Regions from separate parts of the Homo sapiens genome. Here region 2 is linked to region 1. The links come from fine-mapping of genetic effects on gene expression. A gene starts in region 1. The other region holds a variant in brackets. All regions are shown on one strand. Distances are between the middles of the regions.

The links. PIP is the estimated chance that this variant, and not a neighbour inherited with it, causes the effect.
Region 2: its variant is fine-mapped to the expression of RPA1 in cerebral cortex (GTEx, PIP 0.92).

What each region holds. Positions count from the first base shown.
Region 1 is chr17:1,821,920-1,838,327 of GRCh38, reverse strand. It overlaps RPA1 (replication protein A1), which reads right to left and starts at 8,323. Exons shown (of 17, transcript NM_002945.5): 1 at 8,202-8,323. The coding sequence starts at 8,234. SMYD4 (SET and MYND domain containing 4) reads left to right here and starts at 8,426. Exons shown (of 11, transcript NM_052928.3): 1 at 8,426-8,602; 2 at 10,322-10,467. The coding sequence starts at 10,334. RefSeq lists enhancers at 6,927-7,427, 14,244-14,383 and a silencer at 8,055-8,574.
Region 2 is chr17:1,889,568-1,905,975 of GRCh38, reverse strand. It overlaps RPA1 (replication protein A1), which reads right to left. Exons shown (of 17, transcript NM_002945.5): 15 at 14,036-14,143; 16 at 10,881-10,967; 17 at 5,894-8,905. The coding sequence ends at 8,801. Among named protein-coding and RNA genes, the nearest start is that of RPA1, 68 kb to the right of the region's middle. RefSeq lists enhancers at 1,628-1,677, 1,758-1,807. The variant G/A (reference allele first, on the strand shown) is at 8,081.

The sequences.
Region 1 (16,408 bases):
CCTGCTGTTTTTATTTTATTTATTTAATTATTTTTTTGAGACGGAGTTTTGCTCTGTTGCCCAGGCTGGAGTGCAGTGGTGCGATCTTGGCTCACTACAAGCTCCGCCTCCCGGGTTCACGCCATTCTCCCGCCTCAGCCTCCCGAGTAGCTGGGACTACAGGTGCCTGCCACCACGCCCAGCTAATTTTGTATTTTTAGTAGAGACGGGATTTCTCCATGTTGGCCAGGTTGGTCTCGAACTCTCGACCTCAGGTGATCCGCCCGCCTCAGCCTCCCAAAGTGCTGGGATTACAGGCATGAGCCACCACATCCAGCCTAGCAAAGATTTCTTAGGACACACAAACACAACTCTGCAAAAAACAAAACAAAAACAAACAAAAAAACACAACCTGATAACTTGGACTTCATGAAAATTTAAAAGTGCACTTCAAAAAAAACAAAATTTCAAAAAAGAAAAGGCAAGTCACAGATTGGGAAAAAATATATGTAATATTTATATTTAACAAAAGACCTAGCAAGAATCAAGAATTCTCACAACTCATTAATAAGCACAAAACCCAATTTTTAGGTGAACAAAAGATGTGAACAGACACTTCTTTCGTGAAGATATACAAATGGCCAGTAAGCCCACGAAAAGATGCTCAACGTCACTAGCCACCAGAGAAATACAAATAAAAGCACAGTGAGATACCATTACACATTCACTAGAATACTCGAAATCAAAGACTGATGACTGGCAAGGATATGGAGCAACTAGAATTCTCATGATCACACTGGAAAAGGTTGGCGATTTCTTTTACACATTCAGTTACCTGTGACCCAGCAATTACATTCCTAGATATTTATCCCAGAGAAACGAAAACATATTTCCACAAAAAGAGTTGTACTTAAATGGTCATAGCATCTTCATTTATAATAGCCAAAAGATGAAAATAACCCAAATGTGCAATAATAAGTAAATAAACAAATTTTGTTATAGTCATACAATGGAATACTACTGAGCCATAAAAAGGTGCAGATTACTGAATTAACATGGGTAAATCTCAAAAACCATTTTGGTCCACAGTGGTGGCTTGTGCCTGTAACCCCAACACTTTGGGAGGCCAAGGTGGGAGGATCACTTGAGCCCAGGAGTTCAAGATCATCCTGGACAACACACCAAGACTCCATCGCTACAAAAAATATTTTTAGGCCGGGCGTGGTGGCTCACACCTGTAATCCCAGCACTTTGGGAGGCTGAGGCGGGTGGATCACGAGGTCAAGAGATCGAGACCATCCTGACCACCGTGGTGAAGCCCCGTCTCTACTAAAAATACAAAAATTAGCTGGGGATGGTGGCATGCGGCTGTAATCCCAGCTACTCGGGAGGCTGAGGGAAGAGAATCGCTTCAACCCAGGAGGCAGAGGTTGCAGTGAGCTGAGATTGCGCCACTGCACTCCAGTCTGGCAACAGAGCAAGACTGTGTCTCAAAAAAAAAAAAAAAAATTTTTTTTTAATTAGCCAAGAGTGGTGGCATGCACTTGTAGTCCCAGCTACTCAGGAGGCTGAGGTGCGAGGATCTCTTGAGTTCAGGAGGTCAAGGCTGGAGTGAGCCATGACTGTGTCGCTGCACTCCAGCCTGGGTGACAGAGACCCTACCTCTGGGGAAAAAAAAAAAACTGCTGAAAGAAGCCAGACACAAAAGGATAGATATTATTTGATTCCATTTATATGAAGTCTTAGGAAAGGCAAAACTAACCTACAAAGGTAGAAACCAGAACACTGGTTGCCTAGGGTGAGGATGGAGGTGGGGAAGGAGCAAGAGGAGTTGTGCGTTGATGGAAGTATTCTATATCTCCACAGGGGCAATGTGGTTACAGGGGTGCGCACATTTGTCAAAGTTCATCAAGCTGTACATTTAAAATACGTGCAATTTGGCCGGGCATGGTGGCTTATGCCTGTAATCCCAGCACTTTGGAAGGCCAAGGCAGGAGGAGCATCTGAGGTCAGGAGTTCGAGACCAGCCTGGCCAACATAGTGAAACCCCATCACTATTAAAAATACAAAAATTAGCCAGGTGGTGGCGTGCACCTGTAACCCCAATTACTAAGGAGACTGAGGCATGAGAACTGCTTGAACCTGGGAGGCAGAGGTTGCAGTGAGCTGAGATCACGCCACTGCACTCCAGGGTGACAGGAGGAAACTCTGCCTCAAATAAATAAATAAATAAATAAAAAAGGTGCAATTTACTATACGTAAGCAAAATGTCAATGACAGTGATTTTTCTAAAAAGCAGTTATTCTGGGGAACAGTACTGGACAAGGTAAGGCAGGAGGTCAGTAATTACATTAAACACCTCTTTCTTTCTTCTTTCTAAATGAAATAGAGACAGGATCTTGCTATGTTGCCCAGCCTGGTATCAAACTCTTTCTTGGCCTCAAGGGATCCTCCTGCATTAGCCTCCCCAAGTGCTGAGAGTACACATGTGAGCCACCATGCCCGGCCATGAACACCTTTCTGTTCCGTTTGATTTTAAAACCACGTGCATGTATGAGGGGGATTCAAAAAGTACACGAAAAATGTGCATTATGAAAAAACTATGCATGCATTTCAAAAATTTTTTTTGCACTAAAATAAACTCATACTAACTTGTTATAACATGTCTGAACAAGACCTAGTTTGAGGTACTAAGAAGGATAAGACATCAGTTTGAAAAGAGCCCCTATCAGAGCAACATGAATTCTGCTAAAATGGAAACAACAACAAACAACAAATTCAAGGGGAAGGTTGGGTGGAAGAAGGATGAGATCACTTATGAAAGAAAAGTATATGGGGACGATGCTCCAAAGAAATCAGCTGTTTACAAATGTAACTCATTTTAAGGGACAAGGCCAGGCACAGTGGCTCATGCCTATAATCCCAAAGACTTGGGAGGCAAGGCAGGAGAACTGTTTGGAGACCAAGAGTTAGAGACCAGCTTAGGCAAGATGGCGAAACCCCATCTCTACACAAAATTAAAAAAAAAAAAAATTAGCTGGGCATGGTGGCATGCACCTGTACTCCCAGCTACTGGAGAGGTTGAGGTGGAAGGATCACTTGAGCCCAGGAGTTGGAGGTTGCAGTGAGCTATGATCATGCCACTGCACTCCAGCCTGAGAGACAAAGAACAAGACTCTGTCATTTAAAAAAAATTACGGCCAGGTGCAATGGCTCAAGTCTGTAATCCCAGGACTTGGGGAAGCCGAGGCGGCAGATCACTTGAGGCCAGGGGTTCAAGACCAGCCTGGACAACATGACGAAACCTCATCTCTACTAAAAATACAAAAATTAGCTGGGCGTGGTGGCGCACGTCTGTAATCGAGAGACAGAGGCAAAAGAATCACTTGAACCTGGGAGGTGAAGGTTGCAGTGAGCTGAGATTGTGCTTCTGCACCCCAGCCTGGGCAACAGAGTGAGACCCTTTAAAAAAAAAATCCCTAGTAAGTATATAAAGCAACAAATGTAATACTCAAGGGCACATGTGTTCAAATCTTCACCCCATGGACACATTATTCAACCTCTCTGTACTTCCTTCCTCTGTAAAATGGGAGTATAATAGCTATCTTCTAGGGTTACTTAAGTACTGACTACTAAAGCATCTGTCACATTAGAAATAGTCAAAAACATTAGTTCCCTTCCCCTTTCGTTATATAATTAAGATACAAATGCTATGTATTCTGTTGACCACAAGAGTTCTATGCATCATCTCTTATTTTATCATGTGACTCTTGCCCAAACGCCTTCACATGTGTGTGGTATTTGCGTACCCTTTGTGGCCTGTGTCTTTTGAACGAAAATGATACCTGCTTTAGCTGATAATGAAAGTCAGCAAAGGTTCTCCAACTCATTCCATCACCACAAACACATGTGAAACTTTCATTCTTCATTTATGAACAAAATACTTCACCTACGCTGGAAATAGGTTTATAAAATTTTGAATATAAAAACATGGCCAGGTGCAGTGGCTCACATCTATAATCACAGCACTTTGGGAAGCTGAGGCGAGAGGATCGCTTAAGCCCAGGAGTTTGAGACTAGCATGGGCAACAGAGTGAGACCCCATCTCTAAAAAATAAAAAAACTTATCAAATTATTTAAATATCTCCATGATCATTCTTTATTTTTTTTTGAGACAGTCTCACTCTGTCGCCCAGTCTGGAATGCACTGGTGCAATCTCGGCTCACTGCAACCTCTGCCTCACGGGTTCAAGCAATTATCCTGCCTCAGGCTCTCAAGCAGCAGGGATTACAGGCACACGCCAACACACCCAGCTAATTTTGTATTTTTAGTAGACCAGGGTTTCCCCATGTTGGCCAGGCTGATCTCGAACTCCTGACCTCAAGTGATCCACCTGCCTTGGCCTCCTAAAGTGCTTAGATTACAGGCATGAGCCACTGCGCCTGGCCCATGATCAGTCTTTTTAAAAGTGAAGAACCATTCTTTTCTTTTTTTCTTTTGAGATGGAGTTTTGCTCTTGTTGCTGGAGTGCAATGGTGCGATCTTGGCTTACCGGAACCTCTATCTCCCGGGTTCAAGAGATTCTCCTGCCTCAGCCTCCCAAGTAGCTGGGATTCCAGGCATGCGCCCCCACACCTGGCTAATTTTGTATTTCTAATAGAGACAGAGTTTCTCCATGTTGGCCAAGCTGGTCTCAAACTCCCAATCTCAGGTGATCTGCCTGCCTTGGCTTCCCAAAATGCTGGGATTACAGGCGTGAGCCACTGCGCCTGGCCTAGAAACATTCTTAATTTGTCTTAAAGACACAAGGTAGCAGCTATAAAGTAAATGAAAGCTACAATTTAAAATCACTTCCCCGGTTTCAGCATTCACACATTCCTAATTTATTTAAATATTCACTTGAGTCCAACAATAGTTCTTCCTGTTCCTGTTTTTCCCCCAAGCTGCCTTTCTTCCCCATTCACCTGTCCCTTTCTTCCCACTGCCTCATTCATTCATGCAACTAGCAAGCATTTATTCAGCACCTAAAACTTGCCAGCACTTCTCCAGGTATTGGGGATACAATGCAGAGTAAAATAACCCAGACATGATTGCAGGCCTCATGGAATTTACACAAAGTATTAGGCCAGGCACAGTGGCTCAAGCCTGTGATCCCAGCATACTGGGAGGCCAAGGTGGGTGGATCTCGAGGCCAGGAGTTCAAGACCAGCCTGGCCTACATGGCGAAACCCTGTCTCTACTAAAAATACAAAAATTAGCAGGGTGTGGTGGTGGGCACCTGTAATCCCAGCTTCTAGGGAGGCTAAGACAGGAGAATCGCTTGAACCCGGGAGGCAGAGGTTGCAGTGAGCCGAGAATGTGCCACTGCACTCCAGCATGGGCAACAGAGCAAGACTCTGTCTCAAAACAAACAAACAAACAAACACAATAATTTTAAAATTTTAAAAAGAAACTGATAAATCAACAAACATAAAACTGCAATTATTAATAGGTAACATAAACACTGAGCATTTACTATGTATCAGTGTGCTAAGCACTTTAAATTTAATAACTCACTCCATCCTCCTACTTACCTTATGCAATAGATATCATTGCTCTCATTTTACAGAAAAGAAACAGTTTAGTATCTTGCCTCAAGTCATGCATCTAATAAGTGAATGGGGTCGTGCGCGGTGGCTCACGCCTGTAATCCCAGCACTCTGGGAGGCCGAAGCAGGTGGATTGCTTGAGGTCAGGAGTTCGAGACCAGCCTGGCCAACATGGTGAAACCCCATCTCTACTAAAAATACAAAAATTAGCCGGGCATCATGGCAGTCTCCTGTATTCTCAGCTACCTGGGAGGCTGAGGGAGGAGAATTGCTTGAACCCAGGAGGCGGAGGTTGCAGTGAGTCAAGATCGTGCCACTGCACTCCAGCCTGGGCAACAGAGCAAGACTCCATCTCAAAAAGAAAAAAAATAAATAATTCAATAAGTGAATGAACAGGAATTGGGGTCTCAAAGGGATTTAGCCTAGTAAGGGAAGTCACAAATGAGCTGAGATACGAAGATAGTGTTTGCCAGTGTGGGGAAGAGTGAAGAACCACCCAGGCAGTGGGCAGAGGGAAAAAAATGTTCAGGGCCGGGTGCGGTGGCTCACTTCTGTAATCCCAGCACTTTGGGAGGCCGAGGAGGGTGGATCACCTAAGGTTGGGAGTTCAAGACCAGCCTGGGCAACATGGTGAAACCCCCGTGTCTACTAAAAATACAAAAAATTACGCAGGTGTGGTGGTACATGCCTGTAATCCCAGCTACTCTGGAGGCAGAGGCACGAGAACTGCCTGAACCCAGAAGGCAGAGGTTGCAGTGAGCCGAGATTGCGCCACCGCACTCCAGCCTGGGGCGGTAGTGGGGGGGTATGGGGAGAAAGAGTGAGACTCTGCCTCAAAAAAAAAAAAAAAAAAAAAAAAAAGGCCGGGCACAGTGGCTCACGCCTGTAACCCCAACACTTTGGGAGGCCGAGGCGGGCGAATCACAAGGTCAGGAGATCGAGACCATCCTGGCTAACACGGTGAAACCCCGTCTCTACTAAAAAATACAAAAAATTAGCCGGGCGTGGTGGCGGGTACCTGTAGTCCCAGCTATTCGGGAGGCTGAGACAGGAGAATGGCGTGAACCCAGGAGGCAGAGCTTGCAGTGAGCCGAGATCGCGCCACTGCCCTCCAGCCTGGGCAACAGAGCAAGATTCCAGCTCAAAAAAAAAAAAAAAAGTTCAAAGGCCCCATGGAAGAAGGTAGGAGTATGGAATATACCAGAAATCTAAATTTAAAAAAAAATGTGGGGGTGACTGGAGAGGTAGGCTGAGAGTATGCTGTGGATGGGAATGGTGGCAGGAACGTATGCTGAGTGGAAGTCAGCAGCTCAGGCAAAAAAAAAGACGGTGCCAGTATGGATGGAGAGAAGCCAGTGGGCTTGATAGATCTACGCAGAGGCAAAATACACTTCACTTCGTGAGGGACTGGATGCCCAGGTAATGGACAATATAGGAGGAATGATTTCTCAATTTCTGGTTAGCACTGAACTGAATAGATAATGGTGCCATCCGTGGAGATAGGGATCAAGAGGCCCAGACTTAGAAAGATAAAGAATTTGCTTTGGGATACGTATACTGAACTTAAAACCCTCTGAAGCATGGAATAAGCAGACAGATGACGGAAGTTTGTCTTTTAGAGTAAAGGTGGCTCTGTACAAAGAAATTTGTGAGCAACTGACATATATTAATAGATGGCAATGGAATTGCCTTGGGGCCAGGCGCGGTGGTTCATGCCTGTAATTCCAGCATTTTGGGAGGCCGAGGCGGGCGGATAACTTGAGGTCTGGTGTTCGAGATCAGCCTGGCCAACATGATGAAACCCAGTCTCTAATAAAAACACAAAAAGTAGCCGAGTGTGGTGGCGCACACATGTAGTCCCAGCTACTCGGGAGGCTGAGACAGGAGACTCACTTGCACCCGGGAGACGGAGGTTGCAGTGAGCCGAGATCGCGCCTCTGCACTCCAGCCTGGGCGACAGTGAGTGTCGCCCAGGCTGGAGAAAAAAAAAGAAATTGCCTCGGGAGTCAAGAGGGCCTAGAGGGAGCCTTGATTCAACAAAAATTTACAAAGAGGGACTTACAAATAAGACGGGGATAGACCTGCCAAGCTGAGCCACTAAAAACCAAGGAAGAGGGTGTGACCTGAAGCAAGCAGGGCTTAAACGCAAACGCTGCTGAGAACTCAGGTAAGCTGAAAACGGAAAAGGGCTGGATTTAGCAACTTGGAGGCCACTGGTACCTTCAGCCAGGGTTTTCTACAGCGATCAAAGGGATGACTGGAGTGGGTTAAAGAGTTGATGAAAGGCGAGGAAAGGAAGTGGCTGAAACCAGACAAGAAGTTTGGCTGTGGGTGGGGAAAGGAGAAGAGACAGAAAGTGTCCGCAGGTGGAAGATGCAGAGAAAGGCAAGCGTTTATTTAGTTTGTTCTTACGTAGGAAAAATGTGAGCATGTTTTAAAGACGATCGAAAGAATGCTTTGAGGAGGGGGCGATGACACTAGAGGGACGCCCGGCGGGTCCCCACCGCCCCCCGCCATCTCCTCCCCTCGCGTTCATCCCCCGTCGCCCCGGGCTCCCCTCCCCCTCTCTACTCCGCGAGGCTCGGGGCCGCAGCCACCCCGGACCGCCGGCCCAGCCCCCGGCACCTCCTCACCGCAATGGCCCCCTCGCTCAGTTGGCCGACCATGGCTCCACCGCCAAGACTTCCCCGCGGACCCCGCAACAGCTCCAGCTTCCCCACCCGGGTCCCGCGCGCTGCGCAGTTATTGGCCCGAGAAGTTGCGCGCACCGCTCCCGCCCCCGACGTGCGCGCGGCTCAGGGGCGGGCCCGGGCGCTACGCAGCCGCCGCATTGGCCGAGGCGCGGCCCACGTGACCCACCCATGGTCCCAAGCGAGGCCTGGCGCGGGACGCCGGACGCGGTGCGGGGCGGAGCGGGGCGCCAAGGGGCGCGCCAGGAGCTGCGCGGGCGCTGGGAGGGAGACCAGGGCGCAGTTCCGGGCGCGTCTGAGCGGTTCTCGAGGCGTTCTCGCCTCGGTCTCTGGCGAGTGCACGGGTTGGTATCCCAGAGGAGGTTAAAGCTGTTCCTTGAGACCTCCGCTGCTAAATAGAGTCGCAGTAGTGACCCGATTCGTCCAGCAACGCGGGGCTGACTTCCCGCCTCCAAGCCCTGAGCTTGGCACCGTGGCGGTGGGGGGTGGGGGTGGGGGGTCTCCGAAAGGGAATCAGACCCGGCCCCCGTCCTTAGAGAAGAGGACAGTGTGTGGGGGCACTTTATGCCGTCAGTAACCCCACCTCCAGGTAGACGTGGTACAGGCCCCAAGGGTGTTGGAATCACAGCTGGGAAATCAGGGACGCCGTCCCGGAGGAGGTGCCATTTGAGCCGAGTCGAAGAACGTGTGGGAATTTTCCAGGTGGACTCCATAAGCCAGGGTAGGGTTGGTCCGGAAAGCATGAGTAGCCTATGCCAAAACATTGGAGAGTTGAAATAGCCTGGCAAGCCGGGGATAGCAATGAGTTGTTCAGTATGCAAGGGTGCATGCAGAGGAGTAAGTGACACCTGAGAATTAGAAAGTCAGACAAGGGTCAAGTAAGGATGGTTTTGTCCTGGGCTTCCTGGTATGCTTGGAGTAGCGTTGATGAATTTAAGGGCAGAGCACTGACTTCTGTCTCAGTGTTGGAGGCTGGATTGAAAGTGGGGAGTGGTGCCAATGGCATGGACATTAATTATAACACTCTAGGAAGAATGCCAGACGAGATGGTGAGGACTTAATCAGAACGCTGAACTATGTAAGAGAGGGAAATACCTTGTTAAATGAATAGTTGCTGGGGTGGGTGAGAAAGAAAAATCTGGGATGTGTCTCAGAGAAACTAGAGAGGGATCAGGCCGGGCGCGGTGGCTCACGCCTGTAATCCCAGCGCTTTGGGAGGCCAAGGCTGGCGGATCATCTGAGGTCAGGAGTTCGAGACCAGCCTGGCCAACATGGTGAAACCCCGTCTCTACTAAAAATACAAAAATTAGCCGGGCGTAGTTGCGCGCATCTGTAATCCCAGCTACTCGGAGGCTGAGGCAGGAGAATTGCTTGAACCTGGGAGGCGGAGGGTGCAGTGAGCCGAGATGGTGCCACTGCACTCCAGCCTGGGTGACAGAGCAAGACTCTGCCTCACAAAAAAAAAAAAAAGAGGATCTAAGAGCACAGATGGTAGCTATCTAGTCTGCTTCGTCTTTGTATAACCATCACCTGCATGGTGCCTGTGACAAAGTAGTCTTTCAGTAAATATTTCTGAATGGAAGGATGTTGAGTGAATTGCTGTGAGAAAATATAGATCCTTCCTTAGCATATAAACTAGAGGAAAAGACCACAAGAATTGATTTTATTGTTTCAGGCTTCCTTGAATGAAATCTTGATTTTCCTTTTTTTTTTTTTTCCGAGACAGAGTCTTGCTCTGTCACCCAGGCTGGAGTGCAATGGCGTGATCTCAGCTCACTGCAACCTCCGCCTCCCCAGTTCACGCAGTTCTCTTGCCTCAGCCTCCCGAGTAGCTGGGACTACAAGTGTGCGCCACCACACCTGGCTAATTTTTTTGTAGTTTTAGTAGAGACGGGGTTTCACTGTGTTAGCCAGGATGGTCTCCATCTCCTGACCTCGTGATCCACCTACCTCGGCTTCCCAAAGTGCTGGGATTACAGGTGTGAGCCACCGTACCTGGCTGAACTCTTGATTTTCTAAAATTGTGCATTTGTAAGATTCCTATTTTCTTACTCATTTTATAGATCAAAAGCAGCATGGATCTGCCTGTGGATGAATGGAAATCATATCTGCTTCAAAAGTGGGCTTCACTCCCGACGTCTGTTCAGGTCACAATTTCTACAGCAGAGACCTTGAGGGATATCTTTCTTCACTCCTCTTCACTTCTTCAGTAAGTAAATCAAGCTTTAACAAGGGAATTGTGAGCCAAAAAATGTTCTATTTTGTCATTTGCTCTGAAGTAATGTGTCTTTTTCTTAAATAAAGATTGAGTCTTGCTTGTTTCCCAGGCTGGTCTCAAATTTCTGGGCTCAAGCAATCCTCCCACCTTGGCCTCCCAAGGTGCTGGGAGTACAGGCGTGAGCCACCATGTCTGGCCTGGTAACATCTCTTTTTGATGGAAAATGCCTGAAGTACTTTTCCTGGTTCGTTTCTATCCCAGCGTGTCCTGTGAACTAATTCACTTCTGTCATCCTGCAGGATTAGCCAGATCTTTCCTCAGGAAAGCTCTCCCTGAGCCTCAGCTGGGCCATCTTCACTCTTTGTACATTTACAATGCTGTGTGATTTTCCTTTATATATGTGTGTGCTCTTTTGACTAATGCCTGCCTTTGCCGCTAGATTGTGAACTTCATGAGGGAAGGGACCGTGTTTGTATTTGTTTTTCTTTTTTTTTTTTTCTTTTTTTCTTTTTCTTGAGACTGTCTCGCTCTGTCACCCAGGCTAGAGTGCAGTGGCGCAATCTCAGCCCACTGCCTCCGCCTCCCGGGTTCAGGCAATTCTCGTATCTCAGCTTCCCGAGTATTTGGGATTACAGTCGCACACCACCATGCTCGGCTAATTTATTTATTTATTTATTTTTATTTTATTTTATTTTTTTTGACACAGGGTCTCACTCTGTCACCCAGTCTGGAGTGCAGTGGCACAATCTCAGCTCACTGCAATCTCCACCTCCTGGGTTCAAGCGATTCTCATGCCTCAGCGTCCCAAATAGCTAGGATTACAGGCGTACACCATCATGCCCAGCTCACATTTTTGTATTTTTAGTAGAGACAGGGTTTCACCATGTTGGCCAGGCTGGTCTTGAACTCCTGCCCTCAAATGATCCGCCCGCCTCAGCCTCCCAAAGTGCTGGGATTACAGGCATGAGCCACTGTGCCCGGCCTGTTTGTCTTTCTATAGACAAAAATAGTGCAGTGTCAAAAAATAAGTGGTTAGTAAACATTAATTGAATGACAACTTGGTAATGTATATAAAGTTCTTAGTTTAGTTACTGGCTGTTATTAGTGCTTAAAATGACGTATAAAGCAGAACCTTATATATTTGCAGATCCAGAAACACACACCTTTCACGTTCAAGGTTGATGTCTTTATCTTTGTGCCAGGCACATAGTAGGCGCTCGTATATTAATTGAATGAAATAATGAGTTCAGTTTTGAGCCTTGCCAGTTCAGATACTCGGTACAGTTAGGGTTATACTTTTTTTGTTAGTCTTCATTTCTTTTCTTTTCTTTTCTTTTTTTTTTTTTTTTTTTTTTTTTTTGGACAGAGTTTTGCTCTTGTTGCCCAGGCTGGAGTGCAGTGGCACAGTCTTGGCTCACTGCAACCTCCGCCTCCCAAGTTCAAGTGATTCTCCTGCCTCAGCCTCCCGAGTAGCTGGGATTGCAGGCGCATTCCACCATACCCGGCTAATTTTGTATTTTTAATAGAGATGGAGTTTCGCCATGTTGGGCAGGCTGGTCTCCAACTCCTGGCCTCAGGTGATCCGCCCGCCTTGGCCTCCCAAAGTGCTGGGATTGCAGGCATGAGCCACTGCGCCCGGCCCCCCAGTGCATTTTTATTTCTCGTGTGTATTGCCTATTTGTGTCCCTTGCCCATTTTCTAGCAGGTTGTCTTTATTCTCTTGTTCATTTGTAGGAGATCTTCATAAATCTAGCTGTATAGTTCTTTGCTATGTAAGTTACTATTTGTTGTATAAATTATTCCCAATCTGTTTATCTTTTTTACCCTATTTACAATGTAAATGTTTTACATTTACATTGTATATAAATTGTGTATATATGTTTCAAATTTTTAAATTTCATTTAAAATTTATTTTTAGACACAAGGTCTCAGTATGTTGCTCAGGCTGACCTCAAGCTCCTGGGCTCAAGCGATCCTCCTGTCTTCCTTAGGATGGTGGAGTGAACCATCCTAAGCAAGACACAACCCAGAAGGTATAAAAGAAGATGAGGTTGGGTGCGGTGGCTCATACCTGTAAACCTAGCACTTTGGGAGCCAAAGGTGAGAGGATTGCTTGAGCCCAGGAGCCTGGGCAACATAGTGAGATTCCATCTCTATAAACAAATTTTAAAAATTAGCCAAGCATGGTGGCATGTGCCTGTCGTCCCAGCTACTCAGGAGGCTGAGGTGGGAGGATCACTTGAACCTGGGAGGTCAAGGCTGCAGCGAGCCATGATTGTGCCACTGCACTCCAGCCTGGGTGACAGAACAAGACTATTTCTCAAAAAAAAAAAAAAAAAAGAAAGAAAATGACAGATATGGCTGTATAAAAATGAAGCCAGACAACATGACATGTGCCTGTAATTCCAACTACTTGGGAGTTGATAAAAATGTTCATTGTTTTCTGCTAACATTTTTTTACCTTTAGCTCTCTAATCCTTCTGCACTTTTTCCTCCATCTTTATTGAGGTATAACTGACAAAATATACGTTTAAGGGGTACAACATTATGTTATGATGTATGTATACATCTCCAATTGATTTTGTGTACTATGTGAAGGAATATTCTCACTTTTTTTCCAGGTGGACAATTTTTCTGTAGCATTTAATGCATGACGCATCCTTTCCCCAGTGCTTGCAAATGCCTCAGTTATTAAAATTAAATTCCTACTCATGTTACTCCATTCTCACGTTGCTATCAAGAAATACCCAAGACTGGGTAATTTATAAAGAAAAGAGGTTTAATTGACTCACACATGGCTGGGAAGGCCTCAGGAAACTTACCATCATGGTGGAAGACGAAGGAAAAAAAGGCACAGCCCTCACAGGGTGGCAGGAAGGAGAAGTGCTGAGCAAAGGGGGAAAGCCCCTTATAAAATCATCAGATTTCACCGGGCGCGGTGGCTCACGCCTGTAATCGCAGCGCTTTGGGAGACTGGGGCAGGAGGATCACTTGAAGTCAGGAGTTCAGGACCAGCCCAGCCAACATGGTGAAACCCCATCTCTACTAAAAATGCAAAAAAAAAATTAGCCAGGCATTGCGGCATGTGCCTGTAACCGCACCTACTCAGGAGGCTGAGACAGGAGAATTGCTTGAACCTGGGAGACGGAGGGTGCAGTGCGCTGAGATTGTGCCACTGCTCTCCAGCCTGGGCAACAGAGCAAGACTCCATCTCAAAAAATAAAAATATAAATATAAATAAAATAATCAGATTTCGTGAGAACTCACTCACTATCACGAGAACAGCATGGGGAAACCACTCCCACGATTCTGTTACCTCCCATCAGGTCCCTCCGACAACACAGGCTTCTGGGAAATAACAGTTCAAGATGAGATTTGGGTGGGGACACAGCCACGCCATATCACTACTTATCCACAAATTTGTTTCTAGGCTCTAGATCTGTGCCGGAACAAAAGGGTTTTAATTACTGTGACTTTATAGTGTATTTTATTAGTATTATTTTTCTTTTGAGACTGAGCCTCCCTCTGTCGCCCAGGCTGGAGTGCAGTGGCGCAATCTCAGCTCACTGCAACTTGTGCCTCGTGGGTTCAAGCGATTCTCCTGTCTCAGCCTCCCAAGTAGCTAGGGTTACAGGCACACGCCATCATGCCCGGCTAATGTTTGTATTTTTAGTAGAGACGGGGTTTTACCATGTTGGCCAGGCTGGTCTCAAACTCCTGACCTCAGGTGACCCATCCACCTTGGCCTCCCAAAGTCCTGGAATTACAGGCGTGAGCCACCCCACCTGGCCTATAGTGTCATTTTAGAAACTCTAGAACTCTTCAGTTTCAAGTAACAGAAACCCCCTTCAAAGTATGAAACTTTTAGCTATGAAACTAGGCTATCTGAAGGGAGATCTATTTTCAGGCTAGGTTGTATTCAGGGGCTCAAAGGATGTCATCAGAATGTGTATTTCTTCATGTGTCAGACAGATTCTCTCCATCTAGTGGGTGCTATAACCATTCACAGCCCTGGGCACACCCTGATAGTGTAATAACACCCCAGGGGAAGAGGCTGTCTTTCTGAAGTTTCAGCAGAAAACTTCTGGGTGGGGCTCAGGTCAACTGAATTTTGATCACATGCACATCCCTTCAACCAGAGGTATGAGACTCCTCTGATTGGCCAGGCCTGTGTCATGTGCCCAACCCTGCTGTGAAATGGGGTCTACCCTTCTTCAGCCTCAAAAAATGGATTCCCCACTGAGATTTACCGGAAGTAGAGAGAAAGGGTACTTGAAAGCAGGGGAGTCTCAGTACCCAGGCGGCTCCCAGGAAGTGGCCCAGAGGCCAGCTTCCTGCTCGCACACACATAGTCATTGTTCGTATTCCAGAATATCTTGGGTATTTTGTGTGCATTTCCCCCATGTGAACTTTAGAATTGGCTTGTCAAGTTCTTTTTTTTTTTTTTTTTTTTTTTTTGAGACGGAGTCTCGCTCTGTCACCCAAGCTAGAGTGCAGTGGCGTGATCTCGGCTCACTGCAAGCTCTGCCTCCTGGGTTCATGCCATTCTCCTGCCTCAGCCTCTCGAGTAGCTGGGACTACAGGCGCCTGCCACCACGCCCAGCTAATTTTATTTTATTATCTTTTTTTTTTTTTTTGTATTTTTAGTAGAGATGGAGTTTCACCACGTTAGCCAGGATGGTCTTGATCTCCTGACCTCATGATCCACCCGCCTCAGCCTCCCAAAGTGCTGGGATTACAGGCGTGAGCCACCGTGCCCGGCCAGCTTCTCAAGTTCTATAAAAAATGTTGTTGGGCTTTTGATTGGGAATGTGTTGGATTTATAGATTCACTTAAGGAGACCTGACATCTTTACAATATTAAATTTCCTAATCCAAATAAAGGGTATGTCCATTTCTTTAAGGCTTCTTCTATGTCCTTAAGTAAAGTTTTATAGTTTTCTTTATATAGGTCTTACACATTTCATGTTCGATTTATTCTTCTTGTAAGGTTTTTGTTGTTATTGTGAATAAGGCTTTTCCCCCCAATTACATTCTCTAATTGGTGATTGGTGGTGTAAATAAAAGGTAAGAGTTTTTAAATCATCTGACCGGGTGCAGTGGCTCACACCTGTAATCCCAGCATGTTGGGAGCCCAAGGCGGGTGGATCACCTGAGGTCAGGAGTTCAAGACCAGCCTGGGCAACGTGGTGAATGAAACCCTGTCTCTACTAAAAATACAAAAAATTAACTGGCCATGGTGGCGGGCACCTGTAATCCCAGCTGATACCATGGTGGGTTATGGTAGCCTCAGAATGAATTGGAGAGCTTCCCGCCTTTTTCTGTGCTCTGAAATAGCTTATATAATGTAGGAATTATGTGCTTCTTAAAGGCTAGTAGAAAAATTCTGTAAAACTATGTAGACCAGATGCCTTAGTGAAAATATTTTCCTTCCTTAGTTTAATTTTTTATCAGAATAATATGCATACATACTTTAAGAAATCAAATAGTGCTTCAAAACTTATCAGGAAAAACAGCAACTCCCTGTCCACTCTTCCCCATTCCTGATTCTTATTCCCCAGAGACAGCTACTTTAAATTAACTGTTTCTTCTGGCATTTAATTTTTTTTTTAACAGGTTGAGTCAGAGTCTCACTCTGTTACCCAGGCTGGAGTGCAGTGGCGCGATCTCTGTTCACTGCAACCTCTGCCTCCCAGGTTCAAGTGATTATCTTGCCTCAGTCTCCCGAGTAGCTGGGATTACAGGCATGCACTACTATATATGCCTAAAATATATAATTTTTATATTTTTAGTAGAGACAGGGTTTCACCATGTTGGCCAGGCTAGTCTCAAACTCCTGACCTCAAGGGATCCACCCGCCTCAGCCTCCCAAAGTGCTGGGGTTACAGGCATGAGCCATCACACCAGACCTTTTTTTTTTTTGAGACAGAATC
Region 2 (16,408 bases), 68 kb before region 1:
TCTCACGGGACAGACACCATGTCAGATATACGGAGGACCCAGTTTTATAGCTGAGCCCCACGAGACGACCCAGCACACCCCCATACACACAGCAAAAATTGCCCCCCTCATTCAGATGTTCCTGGCATCCTGTAACTTGCCCAAAGCTAGATTTATTGCTCCTGCTGTAAAGTGTATCTGCTCTAAGCCTCACTTAAAAGCTATCACTTGGCAGAAGATCAAGTTAAAAGTGCAGGCTAGCAGGTGATGGTGAGGGTAGGAGAGGGTGGGGAGGGCGGGGTGGAGCCAAGAATGGAAGCGCTGAGAACTACCAGCCCAATATTTAACCTAACTGGTAATTTGCTGTGACAATTATGCCACAAACGGAACACTACCACTATGCAAGGATGTCGCTCTCTAATTAAGAGGGCTCTGCTTTTCCTAGTCACCGGCACTTTAATAACACACACACAAAATGAGGCTTGGCTGCGGGAGCTCAAGGTTCTATTAGGAGGCACGTGCAGCATGCGGCGGTGGCCTGCACATCGGTCTGAGCGTTGCTGCCCGGTGAACCTGCTAACACCTTCAATTCTCCAGCAGACGGAGATGGAAGGGAACCGAGCAGTCAGACGCTCTCACGAGAGAGCCGCTTTGACTGACAGGCGTTTTCCCGGAGAGCCTGCGCGTGCCCCCACTGCAAATCGACACTCAGGCAGCGCCTCTTTCCAACCAGGAAGGCTTGGTGTGGGTTTGATCCTTACAGAGTAACTTTAACAAGGATTTCCAAAAAAATAAAAGTCCACGGAAACAAATTTTCCTCTTCAAGATGGAGAGCAAGACAGAACAGGGACACACGCACACCCAGACACCCAAATTGCCAGTTAGAGACCCTGGTATGAGACAAAAGAATATTATTACCATCACGGCTGTAAAGGATGTTGCCGTCTTCTAAACTGACTGCTGGACTCCTGAAACGTGGCTAAGCAAGACAAACTGTTTTTTGCTTAATTAGTGGCTCCTTTGTGAAAGGTTTGCTGCCTGGAAAGAGCCCATTAGAGGAGGAGAGCTCATTTGCAGGGATGCACCTTATACAGCTATTCAGATTTTGAATAAATCGTGGAGCAGGAAATTGGTGGTGGTGGTGACGGTGGGAGTCGCCGTGTTATGGAAGCAGAAAAGCTTCTGCAAGAGACAGGCTTTGCATTACAAGCCTAAGTGCTGAGGAGATCAGCTTTCCCAGGCAAACATATAAGCCTCTAAAATTTTAGGCCAATGGAAATGACCTCTGTACCATGGCTGACTGAAGATATAAATAAACTTCAACATGAACAGCAGTGTCAACGGTGAGAGGAGATGAGAGTCCAACTGGGGCTTATTTTTAAAAAGTCCTGCCTGTTCTAACTCCATTTCAGGGCTGGGCATTGAAGAGCACAAAGCTGCAGTTCCCCGCGGCAAGCCCTCCTCTTTAACAGGCACCAGCCCCCTAGGTTACCTGGCCGTTGAAAGGAAGCTGCAACACACATAAGTTAAATATAGGTTTGGTTATTTGCATTTTACAAGCACCGAGAATGTTATCTGAGGAAGCTGTCATTTTTAATGACAGCACAAACTTCCAATTACCAACTGGGTAATGCACTAGGGAACGGGCATAATTTTATAAGAACGGCTCGCAATTATTAAAAGTTTACACGATCACTTCTGAGTTGGCTATATAAATATTTCTCACGAGGCAGGTGGGATTCAGTTTTTCACAGGGTCTATTCAAGGCTGAAAAAAAGATTTGTTTTATTGAAAAGTATACATTTTGAGACTCATCAACAGCTAAGGAGAGGGTGTAAAGCGACAGCTACTAAGAGCCTGAGAAGCTGCAAATGCAGCCAGGTGGCTGGTTCAAAGCCTCTCACAAACACCCACGAGCTCACTGGCAAGTCAGACACTGTCACGACAAACCCAATGCAGGTTAGGGGTATGGCAATGGATAACACAAGAACCTCTTACTGGCCGGGCACAGTGTCTCACGCCCGTAATCCCAGCACTTTGGGAGGCCGAGGAGGCCGGATCACCTGAGGTCGGGAGTTCGAGATTAGCCTGGCCAACATGGTGAAACCCTGTCTCTACTAGAAATACAGAAATTATCCAGATGTGGTGACACACGCCTGTATAATCCCAGCTACTCGGGAGGCTGAGGCAGAAGAATCGCTTGAACCTGGGAGGTGGAGGTTGCAGTGAGCCGAGATCGTGCCATTGCACTCCAGCCTGGGCAACAGAGAGAGACTCCATCTCAAAAAAATAAAAAATTAAAAAAAAAAAAAAGAAACTTTCACTCAGCCCATAGTCAAACACTGTCCTATTTGCACCAGGAACCCATTTCCGTTCAGTACCTCTACCCAGCCTCCGTGGCACCGCGTGGCTTCGTGTCAGTGACGAACACAGCGCATGCCACTGTTACCAGTGTTGCTCTCGGTCTGCCTCATACAGACCGGACAGCCCCGACCTAAATGAAGGCTCTAATCAGTGAGTCTCAAATCACCCAATTCTTTGTGAAGTCTTTCCTGATTGACTCCAGTCTTCCAGCAATTTCCCCCTCAACTGCATTTTAATATCACTGTGATATGACTACTTAGCCCCCAAGCCTTGCTCTAAATAGTCCATAGCTCTCAGGGACAGATATCTTTAAGTCACACACTGGCTGGGCGCGGTGGCTCACGCCTGTAATCCCAGCACCTTGGGAGACCAAGGTGGGCGGATCACCTGAGGTCGAGAGTTTGAGACCAGCCTGACCAACATGGTCTCTACTAAAAATAGAAAATTAGCTGGGCGCGGTGGCATATACCTGTAAATCCCAGCTACTCGGGAGCCTGAGGCAGGAGAATTGCTTGAACCTGGGAGGCAGAGTTTGCAGTGAGCCAAGATCACGCCATTGCACTCCAGCCTGGGCAACAAGAGCGAAACTCCATCTCAAAAAAAAAAAAAAAAAAAAAAAAAGTCACATACTAAGGCTGGGCGTGGTGGCTCACGCCTGTAATCCCAGCACTTTGGGAGGCAGAGGCGGGCAGATCACGAGATCAGGAGATTGAGACCATCCTGGCTAACACGGTGAAACCCCGTCTCTACTAAAAATACAAAAAATAAGCTGGGCATGGTGGCGGGCGCCTGTAGTCCCAGCTATTTGGGAGGCTGAGGCAGGAGGATTGCTTGAACTTGGGAGGCAGAGGTTGCAGTGAGCCGAGATTGTGCCACTGCACTCTAGCCTGGGTAAGAGTGAAACTCCGTCTAAAAAACAAACAAACAAACAAACAAAAAGACCCCAAAAAATCAGCTGGGCGTGCAGTAGTCCCAGCTACTCAAGAGGCTGAGGCAGGAGAATCACTTAAACCCAGGAGGTGGTGGTTGCAGTGAGCCGAGATCGCACCACTGCACTCCAGCCTGGGCGACAGAGACTCCATCTCAAAAAATAAAGTCACATACTGACAGGCTGGAACCATGAAGACGAGTGGCTACATACTTTTCTCAATGACTTTTCAAAACCATCATTACAAATATAATTACAAGACTTAATAATCATTAATAGCTTTAGATAATCAGGTTGATTTATAGGCAAGTCAAATGTATTCTCAAGAGGCCTTCTTTGCCAGGGTGGTGGGAAACAAGAGTTTCGCCTCTTCATAGGCACAGCCCCCGTCTGTGTAGTAGGCAGGATGAAACCAGGGCTCCAAAGCCTTCTTTTTCCCTCCCCTCCCTACATTAATCTACCTGCTTCCAAGGAAGGACCTGCTCAAATTACCTACCAGCCCTTGGTGGTACACAGGGTTAGAGGAGTTATCCCTGGACTTAGGCAAAGAAAAATCAATGAGAGAACCTAACAGAACAAGAAAAGGCATGGATTGTCAGTGCCACAAAGCATAAACGCTTCTGCTCGTGAAATCTTGAATTTATAACAATTAGAAAAAGTATAAGCATCCTGCAAGAGTGAATTGGCTGAAAACACATCCAAAGAGCCAAACACCACTTAAAATTATTTATCTAAAGCTATTAATGATTAGTAAATCTTTTAATTATGTTTGTGATTTTTTTGTTTTGAGATGGAGTCTCCCTCAGTCGCTCAGGCTGGAGTGCCATGGTGTGATCTTGGCTCACTGCAGCCTCTGCCTCACGGGGAGGGACTCTCTTGCTTCAGCCTCCCGGGCAGCTGGGATTACAGGGGTGAGCCACCACACCCGGCTAATTTTTGTGTTTTTAGTAGAGATGTGGTTTCACCATGTTGGCCAGGCTGCTCTTGAACTCCTGATCACAAGTGATCCACCTGCCTTGGCCTCCCAAAGTGTGGGATTATAGGTGTGAGCCACTGCACCTGGCCTAATGGTGGTTCTGATGCAATTTTTATCAAAATAAAGATGCCCATCCTAGGAGAAAATCATTACAAAATGATATGCTTACTATGCTACCATTTTTAATTTAAACTCTATACACATAGATACATAGAAAAAACTAGCCAGGGCCAGGCACGGTGGCTCACACCTGTAATCCCAGCACTTTGGGAGGCCGAGGAGGGCGGATCACGAGGTCAGGAGATCGAGACCATCCTGGCTAACATGGTGAAACCCCATCTGTACTAAAAATACAAAAAATTAGCTGGGTACGGTGGCACATGCCTGTAGTCCCAACTACCAGGCTGTAGTCCAGCTACATGCCTGTAGTCCCAGCTACTTGGGAGGCCAAGGCAGGGGAATTGCTTGAACCCGGGAGGTGGAGGTTGCAGTGAGCTGAGATCGTGTCACCGCACTCCAGCCTGGCGACAGAGCAAGACTCTGTCTCAAAAAAAAAAAAAAAGAAGAAAAAAGTAGCCAGCTACACAAGTGTTTATTACTGGTTGGTGAAATCCTAAGTAATTTTATTTTTCTTTTGCCTTTTTGAGATGGAGTCTCGCTCAGTCGCCCAGGCTAGAGTGCAGTGGTGCGATCTCAGCTCACTGCAGCCTCTGCCTTCCAGGTTCAAGTGATTCTCCTGCCTCAGCTGCCCGAGTAGCTGGGATTACAGGAGCCCACCACCACACCTGGCTAATTTTTGTATTTTTAGTAGAGGTGGGGTTTCACTATGTTGGCCAGGCTAGTCTCAAACTCCTAACCTCAGGTGATCCACCTGCCTTGGCCTCCCAAAGTGCTGGGATTACAAGGGAGAGCCACCGCACCCACCCTTTCTCCCCCTTTTTTTGAGATAGGGTCTCGCTCTGTCGCCCAGGCTGGGGTGCAGTGGTGCAATCATGGCTCACTGCAGCCTTGACCTCCCACGGCTCAGGTGATTCTCCCACCTCAGCCTCCCAGGTAGCTGGGACTACAGGTGTGTGCCACCACGCCCAGCTAATTTTTATTTTTTTGTAGGGACGGGGGTCTCCTTATGTTACCCAGGCTGGTCTCGAACTCCTTGGCTCAAGCGATTTGCCCGCCTCAGCCTCCCAAAGTGTTGGGATTATAGGCATGAGCCACTGTGCCAGGCCAATTTTGTTTTTCTTAACTGTAGATTATTTTCCTAAAATAAACATGGAGGCCGGGCGCGGTGGCTCACACCTGTAATCCCAGCACTTTGGGAGGCCGAGGCAGGTGGATCACAAGGTCAGGAGTTCGAGACCATCCTGGCTAACACGGTGAAACCCCGTCTCTACTAAAAATACAGAAAATTAGCCAGGCATGGTGGCACATGCCTGTAGTCCCAGCTACTCAGGAGGCTGAGGCAGAATCGCTTGAACCTGGGAGGCGGAGGTTGCAGTGAGCTGAGATCGTGCCACTGCACTCCAGCCTGGGTGACAGAGCAAGACTCCGTCTCAAAATAAATAAACAAACAAACAAACAAATATGATTACTTGCATAAGAAAGTCAATAGTCCAAATTATCCTTTTTTTTCTTAAACATTTACTTAATGTCTTAATAACAAAAATACCAGTTTTTTTGAATAAGTGAAAATTAAACATCTATGCTCTCTTTTTGAGGAACCGATGACTTCCAAAGGTGTTTATAAAAGCCAGAACTCTACCAGCGGAGTGGATATAAGACTAAGAGTTAACAAACCACATAAAAGGTGGCCGGGGAGTGGGGGGAATCTTCCCTTTGAGACAAGGAAACAATCAGTTTACTAGGGGAATAGTGGCCTTCTAACAGGTGAAAAGAAGAAAAGGAGACCAAACAACCTGTTTCATCCTCTATAAATAAAACCTTGGGCGGCATATTGCCAAAGAAACATGAGTCAATATAAACCTTTACATACTGGGCGGCCAAACTTCACTTTTGGACAGTATATTAATTATGTAGTCAATAACCATGGGTTTCATTAGTGTATTAAATACCACGATCAATAGTATTTATACTTTTTGAAGACAGCCCACTCAGGAAACAGAAGTGGGGGAGGGGAACATTTTTGACCCTGCAGTTCAAAAAAGGAACAGCACGCGAGAGATTAGCAAGGTTTTAATGGAAAGCATAAAACACTGGAAATATGGACAGAAATCAGATTATTACCCTTTTATTTTTTTCCCTGCCCCTTTCACAATGAGACTGGAGGGAATTCAAGAACCACTTGAAATAAAGGCGAAATGATTAGATTTTTTTCTCCTAATTGCCTAACGCTGATGTCATGGTGTACGCAAAATCAACATTGATCTCTAAGTGAAAGAGGAGAAACAGAACAACATCAACAGCCTTTCGAGGTAAACTGTGGGCCAGAATCTATTTAGGCAACCCGCAGGGACCAAAATCTCTGAAAAGCCCAACAGTGGAGCCAGTTTCTGATGCTCCTCTGCTGGTGATCTGATCTTTGAGTGGGGAAATCTGTTAGAAACAGCCTCCTCGAGGGAGCCCTCCCCCTGGCACTGCCCCTGGGTTCCCAATCACATCCACGGAGACGTGCTGGTTTCATCACGCTGGCCACTGAGAAGGCGCGAGGACAGGTGTCAGCGTTCCCTGGACACGTCCTGTCCTGGTACCACGGCTGGTCAGGCCTCTTCACTGTGTGGACAGACACGTGGGGAGAGGAGGGAATGCTGGGAGTAGTAGGCATGAAAGACTGGTTACTGGGCTGAAAGCTAGATCGCCACTTCCCAGCCACAATTTGTCAATCCAGAAGAGGGTTGAAGACTGTAATTTTCTCGTCGATGCTTTATAAGCAAGGTCAGACAGAAAAGAACTTCCGTAAAAATGGCTGAGGCCTCAGTCAGAGACTGAAATGCGACCCAGTTACCATCTCCTGAGACTAGAGAAGGGTAGGAAGGAATGTGTCTAAACAATTAGTGAGGCTGAGCAGGAGTCCCTCTGTGTCTGTCCTCAGGAACGGAAGTCATCCCGTCTAGGGCTGGCTGGCCCCTATGTCAACGGCAGACACCGAGGGGGGAGACAGACAGGACACCATCACTCCCCATATCCAAAAGCCTCCGCAGGCGGCATGTGCAGTGATGAACAGCAGGTCCTCTGGCTGCAGAGTGACCGCCGCACTGCCGGGGTACGACGGCGAGATGTGCGGCCAATGGCAGGCGGTGTGTTGCAGCCACCGGATAGATAATTAATATGATTAGGAACACACAGAGCGAGCATGCTTTTGCTGACTGAAAGGCCCACTAGCATAATTACTGTTTTCTTACCAGCTCACTGTCTGTACACATTTCAAAGCGTGGTTGGTGTTAGACTGCTGCGTAAACATCAATAAAATCCCAAGTGCCAGATCATCAGCATCCTCAGGCAAAATGGCTTTTTGTTTTTAGTGTTTTCATGCTTTGAAAGATGCATTTCAGGGCTGCAAACACTAGGAAGAAGGATCTCCATGCCTTGGACTAATCTTCGGGTTTATAATGAGTTAACATCCCCCCCAAGTGAACATTTATTATGAAGGCTAATTAATTGCTTTCCAGTTATAGGAACTCTTTGCATTCAAAGAAAGTAGGATTCACAACCAAAGAATATACTGTTTATTAAAACAAAGCAAGGGAAACAAAAGGCTTCAAAATCCTTTCCATGTAACATAGCTTTAGTCAAAAAAAACAAAATACATGAATGCAGGAATGTGTACAGGTAGAAAAAGTACGCACTCACCAAGCGAAGCGCAGCATTAATTGAAGTGA[G/A]AAGTAAAGAAACGCTTTGTAGCCGCTCGGATTTCCTTAGGGGACGGCAAGTCAATGCTTATCAGCGGTCCTCAGAAGAGACAATTTTGATTAATATCAGACCCATCTGACTCAGTCTATTAAACCCTGAAGGAAGGATACTCTTCAGATATAGAAGATATGCCTTTGATTAATCATTCTACCCTATTGCCATTCCAAGCATTACCAACTATGTAGCACCTCTAGAAAGAGAGAGCCTTCGAATTCTAGGAAGACACACTTACTAAAATCCCCAGGTGCTCATGACCGCTTCTCAGCTCGCCCCGCTGAGAAGAACCCAAGTTGTGAGCGGGGATGGGGGGGGGTGGTCACCACTGGAGAAGCAAAAACCTAGTTACATAATTTACTTCATGGTCTGCAGTTAGGGTCAGTGACTTACGACATAATTCCTGCTTGATGATAATGAAATTGACAGAAGCCTGAAGGCAGAGGGAGTGACTGGTCTTGCGCTAGCCACTGGCTGACTCCGTAGGCCTGACACAGTCTACACCACAACCACCTGAGCGTATTTTCCTTTGCCTACCGATGGGTTCTGAGATGCGCACGAGGGGGGAAATTGCTTAGTCCACCATCAAGAGCCTCTGCACTGTGTAGCTAACATGGGATCGTCACACGGAGGTGGGAGGAAATCGATTCCATTCTGCCTATTTGCAAACTTCTGCCCGATTGGCACTGCTCCTCTCACATCAATGCACTTCTCCTGATGCTCATGACCAGCCTTCGGCCATACTCTCTGTAGTCCACGGGCTTCACGTCCATCACAGTGGCCTTAATTCGAGACTCGTCCTTCAAAAAGGGAGAAGTAGTTTGTGAGCAGTGAAAGTGTGGTGTGGAGCAGTGAAACCCCTTTTGCTTCAGTGGTTTCAGTGAGCCCAGCGGGAGGGAACAGACGCACGGGTTCAGAGTTCAGTCATTCCAGTGAGTGACAGCCTCCTCCTGAATGTCTGGGGCTGGGCGAGTGAACAGGTCCTTTCTCCAGCACAGGCCCTTCTGATTCTTTACCCAAGCTCCCAAACACCCAGAAGCCTAGAATCCTAGTGAGATGGACTTTAGAGGGTTTCTCTAGTTTCATTTATTCTCCCTACTGCAGGGGATACAGCCCAGAGAGGACATGTGACTTGCACAAAGCCACACAGCTAGTTCTGAAAGCTAAACTTTCAAACTTTCATTTCAAGAAAAGCTGAGTGGTGAAAGGAAGAGCACCTGCAGCAGAGGGAGAGGACCGAGTCTGTCCTGTCTCAGCTCTGGGGAGGCAGCCTCTCTTCACTTCACCTTCCCTGTCCAGACACGATGGGGCTGAATGGCCCCAAAAATCCCCCCCAGCCCCACCCCACTCCCTGACATTGTTTCACGGTGACATCTGATCCCCTATCTCATTTAATGTTTATAGTAGTCGCAGAAGAACGGGCGTTAAGGTAAATACGTGAGTAAACCCTGCAATCAGCAGGGGCGTTTCTACCACTCCCCCTGCCCACTCGTACGTTTACACTCACGGCCTGAATGGTGCCTTTCCGGGCAGAACGGAGTGATACCCAGGAAGGCTGCACAGGCGAGCTCGGGGCTGTCACACTGCTGTGTGCTTGGTCGGTACTAAATCCCGTGATACTCGTAAGCATGATCAAAAGCAAAGCTCTGAAGTCAGGCTGCCTGGGTTGGACGTTAGCTCGACCACTTGCTAGCATACAACTTAGGCAAGTGACTTGTTCTCTGAATGCCCGTGTCTCTCTGTATGTAATTCCTTCAGTGGCAAAATAGGGTAACCACAGTTTCTACATATAGGGTTACTAGGCTCAAGTGAGATGTTCCACGTAAAGGATGTAGAACAGTTACCTGGCAGACCATGCTCAATACTGTTTGATTATAACTATAACTAAGCTGGGCGCGGTGGCTCATGCCTGTAATCCTGGCACTTTGGGAGGCTGAGGCGGGTGGATCATCTGAGGTCAGGAGTTCGAGACCAGCCTGGCCAACATGGTGAAAACTCCGTCTCTACTAAAAATACAAAAATTAGCCGGGCATGGTGGCGGGCGCCTGTAATCCCAGCTACTCGAGGGGCTAAGGCAGGAGAATCACTTGAACCCGGGAGGCGGAGGTTGTGGTGAGCCAAGATCGTCCCACTGCACTCCAGCCTGGGTGACAGAGACTCTGTCTCAAATAAATAAATAAATAAATAAATAAATAAATAAATAAATAAATACTATATGGTATTATGGGCAATTTCAGGAATTTTCAAGGTAGTTTTAACCACACGTGGCCTTTGTTTCATATACTGACTGACTGACTTAGAAACGGGGTTTCACTATGTTACCCAGGCTGGCCTTGAACTGCTGCCTCAGTCTCCCAAGTAGCTGGGACCACAGGCACACACCACCACGCCCGGCTCATATACTTAATATACTTTTCTACAATCTAAATTTGTCAAAGATATGACTCTACTGCATGCGTTATAATTTTTTTGTCAGAACACAGACGAAAAAATCCTAGGATTTAACTGAAAAAAAATAAAAATAAAAAAAATAAACAAACAAAAAAATCCATATTGTATTCCCCACCCCCCCGCCATTGTTTCGACAAGACACTTAAGCTCTCTCTCCTTCCTCATCTGAAAATGGGGATCATAACAGCACCTGTGTTGGGCAAAGTCAGCACCGGGGTCTGGCAGTGAGTACAGTAACTCCCTGCCAGGGAGTGTCACGACACTGCCGTAGGTGACAAACAGCACCTCCCCACCACCAACCCTGCTGCCCAGGCCCTTACTTACGTTGTAGGTCTCCACTTTGACCCTGACTCTGAATATGAAAGATCGGAAGTTGGCATTCTGGAAAACTTCTTCAAATGCCTGTTCATTCTGCAAAAACAAACATAAAACTTGACACATGGAAACCACTGGACAACTTGCAAATACTGATAAGACTTTTAAAAAGACTTCTGAAAATGCATCTCCTGGGTAGTTTCAAATTACTTAGGAATGACTCATCTACAGGTAACATTACATGAAACTGTTTTAAGTAGAATCTTATTGAAAATTAAAACACTAATCACATTCATAGAAGGTAGAATGGCAGTTGTCAGGGCCAGGGAGAAGAGGGTTTTGGAAAAGGAGCTATTGCTTAATGTGCAGAGTTTCAAATCGCCACCCATGAACAGTGTGTCTCCATTCTCCCCTTCCCTCCATCCTTGGAAAACACAAGGCTGTCGTCTGTCTCTATGAATTTGCCTATTTAAAAAAGTACTGGAAAAGGATGGTGGTGACAGGGGCACAGTAATGTGAATGTACCTAACGCCACTAAACTGTACACGTAAAAATGGTTACAAAGGCAAATTTGGTTATGTATGCTTTACTAGACACAAAAAATTAAAAACGCTCTTAGGAAGTTTCTAAGACTTTAAGGCTGGGCACGGTGGCTCATACCTGTCATCCCAGCGCTTTGGGAAGCGGAAGCGGGTGGATCACTTGAGGTTGGGAGTTCAAGACCAGCCTGGCCAACACGGTGAAACCCCATCTCTACTAAAAACACAAAAATTAGCTGGGCATAGTGGCAGGTGCCTGTAATCCCAGGTACTAGGGAGGCTGAGGCAGAAGAATTGCTTCGACCTGAGAGGCGGAGGCTACAGTGAGCTGAGACTGCACTACTGCACTCCAGCATGGGCTATGGAGCGAGACTCTCAAAAAAAAAAAAAATTAGGAGGTCAGGTATGGTGGCGCGTGACTATAATCCCAATGTTTTGGGAGACCGAGGTGGGAGGACTGCTTGAGGCCAGGAGTTCAAGAATAGCCTGGGGAACATAGCAAAACCCCATCTCTACCAAAAAAAAAAAAAAAAAAACTTAAGCCAGGTATGGTGGCGTGTACCAGTAGTCCCAGCTACTCAGGAGACTGAGGTGGCAGGACTGTCTGAGCCCAAGAGTTTGAAGCTGCAGTGAGCCATGATCGCACACCACGGCGCTCCAACATGGGTGATGAGGCAAGACCTTGTCTCAAAAAAAAGAAAAAAAGGAAAAACACTCAGAAGAAAGTTCAATATAATTCGTGATTTCAGCCTCTGTATTTATAGCTACTGATTTGGTGTGCAAGCAGAGAAGACTGTTGAGGTGCGCAAAGGCTAGGGAAGGCCTAAAAACAATCCTTTTCCCTCTCTCACTCCTCAAATGCAATTTAAGTTTATTAAAAAAAAAAAAGTCTGGTAAACAGACAAGAATTAGAGAATATAGTTTGTATAAAGATGCATAAATAAATGTGTAATAACTATATTAACAGAGTTGATTGAGACCTTTGACAAAAAAAAAGAAAAACTAATTAATAGTTCACACCAACCTAGTGTTTTTTGCAAGTCACGCACGGCGTGAAAGCAGCTTTGCTATACAGAACTCTTTTCTGTAAAGGTTACTTGATCAAAACCCAAACCCAAACCAAATGGACTTTCAGATATGAAAATAAAACAATGGGTTAAAGCTTGAGAAAATTACACCGGCTGCCATTATGCTTCCAAGATGAGGGGCGTGGAGTGCGAACTCCAGGATCTCACGGTTCCTCGGGGAAGTTTCTATATGTCCTCATTCACCGGCAGAAAAAACAGTCAAATATAATAAGCTCATAAAAATCCTGAAAGGCTTACTCGGGCCTTAAAATCTGATACGAAAATTGAAGACCAGGTAAAAACAGACAAAAGATACTATCACACTTTAAAGTCAATTCTAGTTATTTCTGTAACAGGATTTGTTGAGACTATTTTGAGAGCTCTCATGGACAATTTAAAAAAAGAGTCAGGGCAGAGCCCAAACAGACAGAACTGGGGACAGGAAGAAAAAGAAAAACACACCAGAACAAATGGCAAAGCCTTTCATCTTTGTGGCCTTTACAAGTATTCCAACCAATTTGGAGGAAATCGGGGGAAAAGCCATCTACAGAAAGGTGCCCATTTATGTGGCCCAGAAAACATAGCTTTTATTGGTCTTCCTTATGTTTTACCTGAGCAACTACCTTTCCTAAATTCAGCATTATTAGCAATCTATTCTGTACATTAAATAAACCTAATATGTGAAAATGCAAACTTATAAAAATGAAATGGACAAAGTTACCTTACGGAAGAAAGTCACCGCATAAGAATTGCATCTGATGGGCTGAAATGGCAGGCACCTTATATGTGCATTTATTATTATTGTTTTATAGGACAGACCCAGGAACTTGACATACGTGCATTTTAACCAGGATCTGACTCAACTTTTCTGGAAGGTATTTACTATGTTAAAAAAGCATGCCTGTAATAATTCAGGTTGTTTCAGGGACACCTCCCGACCTAAGTCATCTCAGGCACACTAGCTCTGATGTGCTAATAGGAACAGGAGAAACGGGTGGCTTCGATTTAGAAAGTGCTTTGGTTTTAAAGTACTTTTATATACATTATTTCACTGTTAAGCACATCCCAAATGGACAAGATTAGATAACATCAGATGAGCTCTTAAATAATTATCAGGCTGAGAAACTGTATACAAACAATACCAAAAAGAAACAAACTAAAAAATATTAAACAGCAAAAAGAGGGCCAGTGTTGGGCAAGGTGTGGTGGCTCACACCTGTAATCCCAGCATTTCGGGTGGCTGAAGCGGGCAGATCATGAGGTCAGGAGTTCGAGACCAGCCTGGCCAACATGGTAAAACCCCGTCTCTACTAAAAATACAAAAACTAGCCGGGCATCGTGGCGGGTGCCTGTCATCCCAGCTACTCAGGAGGCTGGGGCAGGAGAATCACTTGAACCCGGGAGGCGGAGACTGCGGTGAGCTGAGATCGCGCCACTGCACTCCAGCCTAGGAAACAGGGCAAGACTCCATCTCAAAAAAAAAAAAATGTGTGGGGTCAGTGTTATAGAATGAGAACCATTAAAAGTTATAGAAGTTATAATAAAATATGTGGCTGACCTTGTCTTTTAATTCCCCAAGATAAGCAGCATTTTGTCCAAGGATAGCTTCAGCAGACTCCTGGAAACAAGTCACCCACTGATTCTCTTGAAAATCTGCAATATTTACCTAAAAAACACAATTCTACATTATTTCAGCAAAGAAATAATAAAAAGACACACTGAGAAGATGGGGAGAGGTTAATGTTCTTTTTCCACTTATTAAAATAATTTCCAGAGAGGGCCAGGTGCAGTGGGCTCATGCCTGTCATCCCAGCACTTTGGGAGGCCAAGGCGGGTGGAACACTTGAGGCCAGGAGTTTGAAACCAGCCTGGCCAACATGGTGAAACTCCGTCTCTACGAAAAATACAAAAATTAGCCAGGCATGGTGGCGGGTGCCTGTAATCCCAGCTACTCAGGAGGCTGAGGCGGGAGAATCACTTGAACCCGGGAGGCGGAGGTTGCAGCGAGCTGAGATCGAGCCACTGCACTCCAGCCTGGGTGACAGAGAGAGGCCCATCAGATTAGTTCCTGTCGAGGTGCAGCTGGCTTTGGATGAAGGGTTTTGAGTGAATCGGGGGAGTTCTCTGCATTTTCAATTGCCCACTCTGTAGTTCCTAGGAGGAGTTCCATGAGACGGCTCTGTCACTGCTGGGCACCCAGACAACTGAAGAGCCTGCCCGTGAGCCTCTGTCAGTCACCAAATTGACCTGGCAAAGGAAATGAGCAATCAAATGTCTCCCACTGGGCTGTGGTGTAACATTAAACAGGGCAAAGTCAAGGAAGAAAGCAGATCTCAAAGAATCCACTTGCTGAAGTAAAAGCCTTTGTAGAAACACGAGTGGTTTTTCTTTAAGGCATCATTTTGACGATTTTACATCTTCATTTTGCATGGGTACAAGGCTTTTAATAGAGAGAATGTTATGACGAAAAATAAGGTGACGAAACCAGTTAAAAGTGAAAAGCGCTCTCAATACACAGCAACGGTATCACACCCTGGGCTCACACTTCCTTTAACCCACGCTATCCTTCTAAGAAGCAAAGAGCATCTCATCACACAGGGCAAGAACTACAATGACGCACACGTGTGATAAATATCAAATCAAACAAGTGTGCGGGAGATTGCGCTGTGGAGTTTAACAGAAAGGCTGATGTTTCCACAAACTAAAACAAATTTTCTTCATCTTAGTTCAATGAAAAGTTTATAGTTTACAAAAAATGAGCCTAAACGTAGAACTGTCCTGCTAAGCTAACATTTCATTTTATTTATCATTTATTAATTTAATTTATTTATTTATTGAGATGGAGTCTTGCTCTGTCACCCAGGCTGGAATGCAGTGGCGCGATCGTGGCTCACTGCAAACTCCACCTCCCGGGTTCATGCCATTCCCCGGCCTCAGCCTCCCTAGTAGCTGGGACTGCAGGTGCCCGCCACCACGCCTGGCTAATTTTTTTGTACTTTTAGTAGAGACAGGGTTTCACTGTGTTAGCCAAGATGATCTCGATCTCCTGACCTCGTGATCCGCCTGCCTCAGCCTCCCAAAGTGCTGGGATTACAGGCGTGAGCCACCGTGCCCGGCCTATTTATTTATTTTTTAAAGACAGGGTCTGACTCTGTCACCCAGGCTGGAGTGCAGTGCCACGATCATGGCTCACTGCAGCCTTGACCTCTCGGGCTCAAGCGATCCTCCTACCTCAGCCTCATGAGTAGCTGGGACAAGTGCATACCACCACAGCCAGCTAATTTTACTTTTTGTAGAGACAGGGTCTTGCCATGTTGCCCAGGCTGATATCGAACTCCCAGCCTCAAGCAATCATCCTGCCTCAGCCTTCCAAAGTGCTGGGGTTACAGGCACAAGTCACTGCGCCTGGCCAATATGAACATTTTTCAGGCTTCTGATATATTACTGCCAAATCATCCTTTGGAAAAATGTGAAACTGTTTTCTTTTTCTCTTTTCTTGAGATGGAGTTTTGCTCTTGTCGCCCGGGCTGGAGTGCAGTGGTGTGATCTCGGCTCACTGCAACCTCTGCCTCCCGGGTTCAAGCGATTCTCCTGCCTCAGCCTCCCGAGTAGCTGGGACTACAGGCACCCGCCACCACGCCCGGCTAATTTTTGTATTTTTAGTAGAGACAGGGTTTCACCATGTTGGCCAGGCTGGTCTCAAACTCCTGATCTCAGGTGACGCACCCGCCTCGGCCTCCCAAAGTGCTGGGATTACAAAAGTGAGCCACTGTGCCCGGCCTTAAACTGTTTTCTTAAACTGCTATTATCGCCTAGTTCTATCATTGAAAACAAAACAAAACAAAATAAAAATCTTAAGGCCGGGTGCAGTGGCTCAGGCTTGTAATGCCAGCACTTTGGAAGGCTGAGGTGGGAGGATGACATGAGGCCA